Linked DNA regions of Homo sapiens. The protein of the gene in region 1 interacts with the protein of each later gene in a pairwise test. Each region holds a gene or a part of one and is shown on either strand. Other genes may lie near its edges.

What was found.
Region 2: the proteins of ACO2 (region 1) and C5AR2 interact in a two-hybrid assay, tested with the Homo sapiens proteins (one large-scale study listed by BioGRID and IntAct).

The regions. Positions count from the first base shown.
Region 1 is NC_000022.11:41,521,117-41,524,616, reverse strand, and holds part of ACO2 (aconitate hydratase, mitochondrial precursor), read right to left. Parts: intron 1,788-3,500; coding exon 1,630-1,787; intron 1,413-1,629; coding exon 1,339-1,412; intron 788-1,338; coding exon 676-787; intron 1-675. UniProt on the Homo sapiens protein: Catalyzes the isomerization of citrate to isocitrate via cis-aconitate.
Region 2 is NC_000019.10:47,338,675-47,342,174, reverse strand, and holds part of C5AR2 (C5a anaphylatoxin chemotactic receptor 2), read right to left. Parts: intron 1,689-3,500; exon of another isoform or gene 1,563-1,688; intron 1,391-1,562; 5' UTR 1,376-1,390; coding exon 362-1,375; 3' UTR 1-361.

The DNA of each region.
Region 1 (3,500 bases):
TGCAGGGCCGGGCCGGCAGTGCTGTTCTCTCTCCTCACAGCTATCCTGGAGGGAGTGGGGGCCCTGGCGCAGAAATGCTGGTATGATGCAAACCTGCTCAGTGCGCAGGACACTAAAAACATGGAAGGAGCCATTCCTTCACCCATTTAGCAAGACATATTTGTAGAACACGCAGATAAACAACCAAGTCAAGAGAGCCTGGCCATGTGCCAGTCACGGCCAGGGCTGAATACCGCCAAGGGCAAGGCTCACTCTGGCCACGGGAACAATGGCAAAGGCCTCGCTTTTGTGGAACTCCTACCTGGGGTTGGAAACTGCATGTGTCCCACGCACTTTCCCAGGTAATCCCGAGGATTACGGGGACACAGAGAAGGTAAGTGACTTGGCCACACTCATACAGCGAGTTAGAGGCAGGGCTGGGATGTGTCCTAGGCAGTGAGTGAGATTCCAAATTCCATGCTCATAAGCACAAACCACTGTATAAATATCTCATAATCCCATGACCCAGGGAGCCCCAGGCAGGAAGCACCAAGCATGCGCCTGAGGCTGGGAAGGCCTGTAGCTCCTGGCTACCACTTGGATGACCCCAGTCCCCATCTCCTTCTGCCTCCTCCTCTGACCCGCCAGGGACCCCCAGAGGCCATCCCAGGCTTGTGCGCAGCTGGGCAGTCTCACCTCTGGGGACGTGACAAAGGCATGGGTCTCGGGGTTTGCGTCGTTGCGGCCCGTGAAGTTCCTGTTGTAGGAGGTGACGATTGTGTTCTTCTCCCCCTTCTTGATGTCCTTCCTGCCAGGTCAGAGGGATCAGGGTTAGGGATATCTGGCCTTGTCACCTGGCCTGTCCCGAGGACAGATAAGCTGGGTTCCTGTGGCGCAGCCCAGCCTAGCTCCTACCGAGGGAAAATGAAGAGGCCCTGCCAGGGTTGCCTCCTCCTGGGGCCACGCGCAGAGCAGAAGGGAACCTCAGGATCACTGGGCCCAGCCTGCAACCACACGTAAGCCAGAGGCAAGGCCTTGGTCAAGGCCTGAGTTTCCTGACCTGGGGCACTGCCTCCTCCCAAACGGCTCCTGCTGTGTCCGTCAGGGTGAGGCCGCGCTGGCTTCCTCCTGCCAGCCCAGGCTTCAGCCAAGTTGCCCCCCAGTGCCTCTGCAGGGCCCTTCCTCACCCAGCCCCTCTTCCCAGGCATGTCTGCCAGAGGCTTCTAATGGGCAAGAGTCCCTGGAGCTAGAGACCTTGGCTGGAGTCTCTTCTCTCCACCCCAATAATTCCCCCTCCAACTTCTGGGGCTCTGTACCCTGTGCACAAGGGGCTGTCTTGTCAAAAGATACGCCTCTTACCTGTCCCACTGGCCAATGCAGGGGCCACAAGCATTGGCCAGGACAATGCCACCCAGATCCCTCAAGATCTGTGCCTGCCAGGGAGAGAGGAAGACAGAATGTCAAGGGTGGGTGAGAGTCTGATGGGAAGGGGTGATGTGGTGGCTGCAGGACGAAGTGCTGTACTGGAACCCCAGGGCAGCCACTGGGACCTGCCCCAGCCCCGGCCCAACAGGCCTCTGGGCTTGTGCCGCCTGGAGGCATTACTCAGCATGGGGTGGGGGAGATGGGCAGGGGGATATGGGCACTCACATAGCCGTCCCGCTCAATGGTGGCGCGGATCTGCTCGGAACCTGGAGTGATGGTGAACTGGGACTTGCACTTGAGGCCATGGGCCAGTGCCTGCTTGGCCACAGCTGCTGAGCGCCCCATATCTTCATAGCTTGAATTGGTGCAGCTACCAATTAGACCTGGTGCATTGTGGGTGGTGGGGTTAAGGGTCAGGAGGAGACAGTGAGCAGAGGTCTCCACCTGACTTCAAATTATCCAGACTTGGCCAAAAGAGTTCACCATCTGGGCTGGGCCAGAGACTTTTTTAACAGAGACCAGTTGCAAGCAACCGAAATATCCAACAATAAAGGACAGGCTAACTCATGACGTGGCGTCATTTGAAGAAAGATGCTGTAGCCATTGGCCATGATGCTGAACACATTAGGACTATGACCCCTTTTACAGCAATATCATGTACACGTGTAGGCACGTCAGAGGGCTCATACGAACAGCCATCCTTGATGGGCTGGGGCTGACAGGAGATGCTAATTTTCTTCTTTTATACTTTCTAGTATTTTCTGGGTTTTAAAGATTGTTTTATAATCAGGGCAATAAGAGTTCTTTTTAAAAAGTCTATAAAACCTGAATAACATCGCACTTTCTGTCTAGACAGTCTCTTTTTGTTGTTGTTGAGATGGGGTCTTGCTCTGTCGCCCAGGCTGGAGTGCAAGGGCACAGTCGAGGCTTGCTCACTGCAGTCTCTAACTCCTGGGGCTCAAGCAACTCCTCCTGCCTCAACTTCCTGAGTAGCTGGGACCCACAGGTGAGTACCACCACACCTGGCTAATTCAATAAATTGTTTTTGTAGAGACAAAGTCTCACCATGTTGCCCAGGCTGCTCTTGAACTCCTGGGATCAAATGATCCTCCTGCCTCAGCCTCTCAAAGTGTTGGGACTGGCCAGGCGCGGTGGCTCACACCTGTAATCCCACAACTTTGAGAGGCCGAGGCAGGCAGATCACTTGAGGTCAGGAGTTCCAGACTAGCCTGGCTAACACAGTGAAACCCCCATCTCTACTAAAAATACAAAAATTAGCCAGGCATGGTGGCGGGCGCCTGTAGTCCCAGCTACTCGGGAGGCTGAGGCAGAACTGCTTGAACCTGGGAGGCGGAGGCTGCAGTGAGCCGAGATTGTGCCACTGCACTCCAGCCTGGGTGACAGAGCAAGACTCTGTCTCAAAAAAAAAAAAAAGGGTTGGGATTACTGGCAAAAGCCCATATAACCAGCCAAGATAGTTTCTTTTATTAATTTAGTAATTTACTTTCTAATTATTAAACCACCAAATATTTTTTTTCTTAAAATTACTTCAATGAATAAGGGCGAACACATTATATTGCCCTTATTTTCGGCCAGACGGTATAGAAATCTCTTTTCACATATTGTCACTTCTCCAGACAACTTTATTTTTTATTTATTTTTCTCATTGGTGATAGCAGCAGTAGGCCCAACACCACCTTCAAAGGTGTCAGTACGATCATGACTCCTGTTTTACAGATGGGGAACCCACACATAGACAGTGAAGTAGTTTGCTCAGGGTCACTCAGCTGTTAGTGGCTGTTAGGTGGCAGAGCCAGGATTCAAGCCCAGGCCATCTGGCTCCAGGCTCCATGCTCTTCACAGCCACACTGTACCCAGCAGCAGCAGATGCCAGTGACTGGCATGCCAGGGCGTCTGCATGTGTAAAGCATGAAAAGTCACATAAAGCAGCATGGGTGATATAAAATGTAAAACGGGAAAATCTATGCACACAATACACAGAAACACAGCACACCTCTCCAAGAGCTCTAAGAGCTTGCTCCTGGCTGGGGGTTGAGATTAGGAGTTTTAAAAATTCTTCTTGATTGTGAATATTC
Region 2 (3,500 bases), on another chromosome or scaffold:
CCATATTGGCTAGGCTGGTCTTGAAGTCCTGACCTCAAGTGATCTACCTGCCTCAGCCTCCCAAAGCCCTGGAATTACAGGCGTGAGCCACCGCAAATGGCCCTATATATCTTTGTTTATAGTCTGTCTTCCTCCACTAGAAGAATATCAGCTCCCTGAGGGCAGGATTTGTGTCTGTTTTGGTCACTGCTATATCTCTAGTGCCTAAAAAGGCCTTGCACATAGCAAGTGCATGATGGATATCTGTTGAATGAAGGAAGGAATAAAATGAAGACATCATTGAGCTCCTGGATCCAGCTATGCCTGAAGCCAGTCTTGTGAAATGAGATAAGAAGATACACACCCACAATGTCTCTCCAGCCTACACCTCCATCTCCGAGACCAGGTCATGGCTGGTGGATTTCTTGCTGTCCACACTTTCGTCCTGGCCCTGGGACTCCCTCAGGGCCCAGTGACAGGCAGCTGGCAGTGACCGGCGGAGTTGAGCCCTCCCAAAATACAGGAAGAGCATGGGATTGAGGCAGCTGTGAGCGAGGGCAAGGCCCACGATGAGGGGTTCAGCCCGCAGGGCCCTGGCCAGGAGTGCGGAGTTCGGGGCCGCCACAGTGAGCACCAGCCCCAGCAGGTGGTAGGGTGCCCAGCAGACAAAAAACCCCACCACAATGGCTGTGCCCAGCGGCCGGCAGCGTCGGGCTGCCCAGCACAGGAGGGCACTGTGGCAGCTGGCCACGGCCACCAGGGGCCCCAGGAAGCCAAAAAGAAACCGGATGGCAGTCACCGCATTCTCGGTGCTGGAGGAGCCGCCGTAGTCCACCACACACTGCAGCCGGGCTGGGAAGTGCTCCTGGTGCAGCCGGCGGTAGATGGCGGAGGGCACGGTGAGCAGCAAGGCCAGTGTCCAGGCTGCCCCACAGGCCACCTGCACCCCGCACGCCCGCTGAACCGTAGACCACCAGGCAGGCCCGAGAGCCAGGAAGCAGAGGTCGGCACTGAGAGCTGCCAGGAGCAGGACGCTGGCATACATGGTCAGCAGGATGATGGAGGGCAGCGCCCGACAGCCCACTGCACCATACGGCCAGTGGCCTCCACGGGCAATGGGCACTGCCAGGATGGGCAGAGACAAACAGCACAGCAAATCCGCCACGGCCAGGTGGAGCAACCAGGTGGCACCCACCCTCCGGCGGGCCACCTTCCCAGCCACCCAGGCCACCATGGCATTGCCCGGCACCCCCACCAGGAAGATGGCGGCATACAGTGGGAGCGGGGCCACGCGCAGCGGGTCGATGGCCAGGCAGGCGCCATCCAGGCAGTCCACAGGGCGGTCCGAGAGGTCGCTGTAATCCCCATACTCGTAGCTGACAGAATCGTTCCCCATTCAGGCTCCTGGTGTCTGGGCAGGAGAGAAAGACGATGAAAACTCAGAGGAGGAAACTCCATGGCCCTGGAGATCTAGGGTGTCCATCAGCCCGGCCCACCAGCACCTTGCAAACTGGAATATTGCGTCATAAGGACTCCAGTGCTTTAGAATATTGGAATTCTAGGCCGGGTGTGGTGGCTCACACCTGTAATCTTAACACTTTGGGAGGCCAAGACAGGTGGATCACTTGAGGTCAGGAATTCAAGACAGGCCAACATGGTGAAACACCGTCTCTACTAAAAATACAAAAATTAGCTGGGTGTGGTGGCGGGCACCTGTAATCCCAGCTACTTGGGAGGCTGAGAATTTCTTGAACCCAGAAGGTGGAGGTGGCAGTGAGCTGAGCTCACACCACTGCACTCCAGCCTGGGAGACAGAGTGAGACTCCATCTCAAAAAAAAAAAAAAAAAATTGGAATTCTAGAACTTAGTGTTGTTAGAAGTGGCATCTTGGAATTCTAGAATATTACAATGCCAGAACCCTAGTACATTGGAATATTGGGGCTGGGCACGGTGGTTCAGGCCTGTAATCCCAACGATTTGAGAGGCCAAGGTGGGAAGATCACTTGAGGTCAGGAGTTCTAGACCAGCCTGGGCAACATAGGGAGACCCCATCTCTACGAAAATTTTTTAAAACATAGCCAGGCATGGTCATGCGTGCCTGTGATCCTAGCTGCCGAAAAGGCTGAAGTGGGAGAATCATTTGAGCCCAGGAGATTGAGTGAGCTTGATCATACCCCTGCACTCCAGCCAGGATGACAGAGAGAGACTCTGTCTCAAAAAATAAAAAAAAATAGGAAAAGAAAGAAAGAAATGAGCAAAATCCAAAATCCACAGTATTTTAGAAGATAATAAATACTATGGGAAAAATATCACACAGGGAAGCTGGCTATGTTGGAGTTGTACAGGCATGGTCAGGGAAGGCTTCTTGAGAAGGTGACATTTGCATAAAAATCTGAAGGAACAGTGGGAGAGATGCATCGAGATCTGGGGGAAGAGTGTTTCAGGCATCGAGAACAGCCAGTGCAAAGGCCCTGAGGTGGGAACATGACGGTCATGTCCAAGAACAGCAAGGAGCCCAGTGTGGCTGGAGTGGAATCTGCCAGAGGGAGAGGGTGAGAGGCAATAGCAGAGTCATCAGGGGCCGGGCACAGTGGCTCATGCCAGTAATCACGGGAATTTGGGAGGCCAAGGTGGGTGGATCACCTGAGGTCAGGAGTTTGAGACCAGCCTGGCCAACATGGTGAAACCCCATCTCTCCTAAAAACACAAAAATAACCTGGAGTGATGGTGGACGCCTGTAATCCCAGCTACTCAGGAGGCTGAGGCAGGAGGGATCACTTGAACCAGGGAGGCGGAGGTTGCTGTGAGCTGAGATCATGCCAGTGCACTCCAGCCTGGGCAACAGAGCAAGACTCCATCTCAAAAAAAGAAAAAAACAAAACAAAACAAAACAAATGAAAAACAGTTATCAGGGGCCACGGCATGTAGGGCCACGTGGGCAACGCAAGGACATCATCATTTATTCCAAATGAGACAGGTGCTATAGGAGGGTGCTGAGCAAGGAAGCGACATAATCTATCATAGCAATAATTTATTTTTTTTGAGACAGAGTTTTGCTCTGTTGCCCAGGCTGGAGTGTGGTGGCATGATCTCGGCTCACTGCAACCTCCGCCTCCTGGGTTCAAGCAATTCTCCTGCCTCAGCCTCCCAAGTAGCTGAGATTACAGGTACATGCCACCACACCTGGCTAATTTTTGTATTTTTAGTAGAGATGGGGTTTCACCATGTTAGCCAGGCTGGTGTCGAACTCCTGACCTCAGGTGATCCACCTGCCTCAGCCTCCCAAAGTGCTGGGATTACAGGCGTGAGCCACCATGTCGGGCCACAATAATATTATTACTATATTATTACTATTTTTTGAGACAGGGTCTGGCTCTGTAGCCCAGACTGGACTGCAGCGGCACTTTCCCAGCTCACTGCAGCCTCCATCTCCTGGGCTCAAGCAACCCTCCACCTCACCCTCCCAAGTAGCTAGGACTACAGGTGCACACCATCATGCCTGATTAATTATTATTATTATT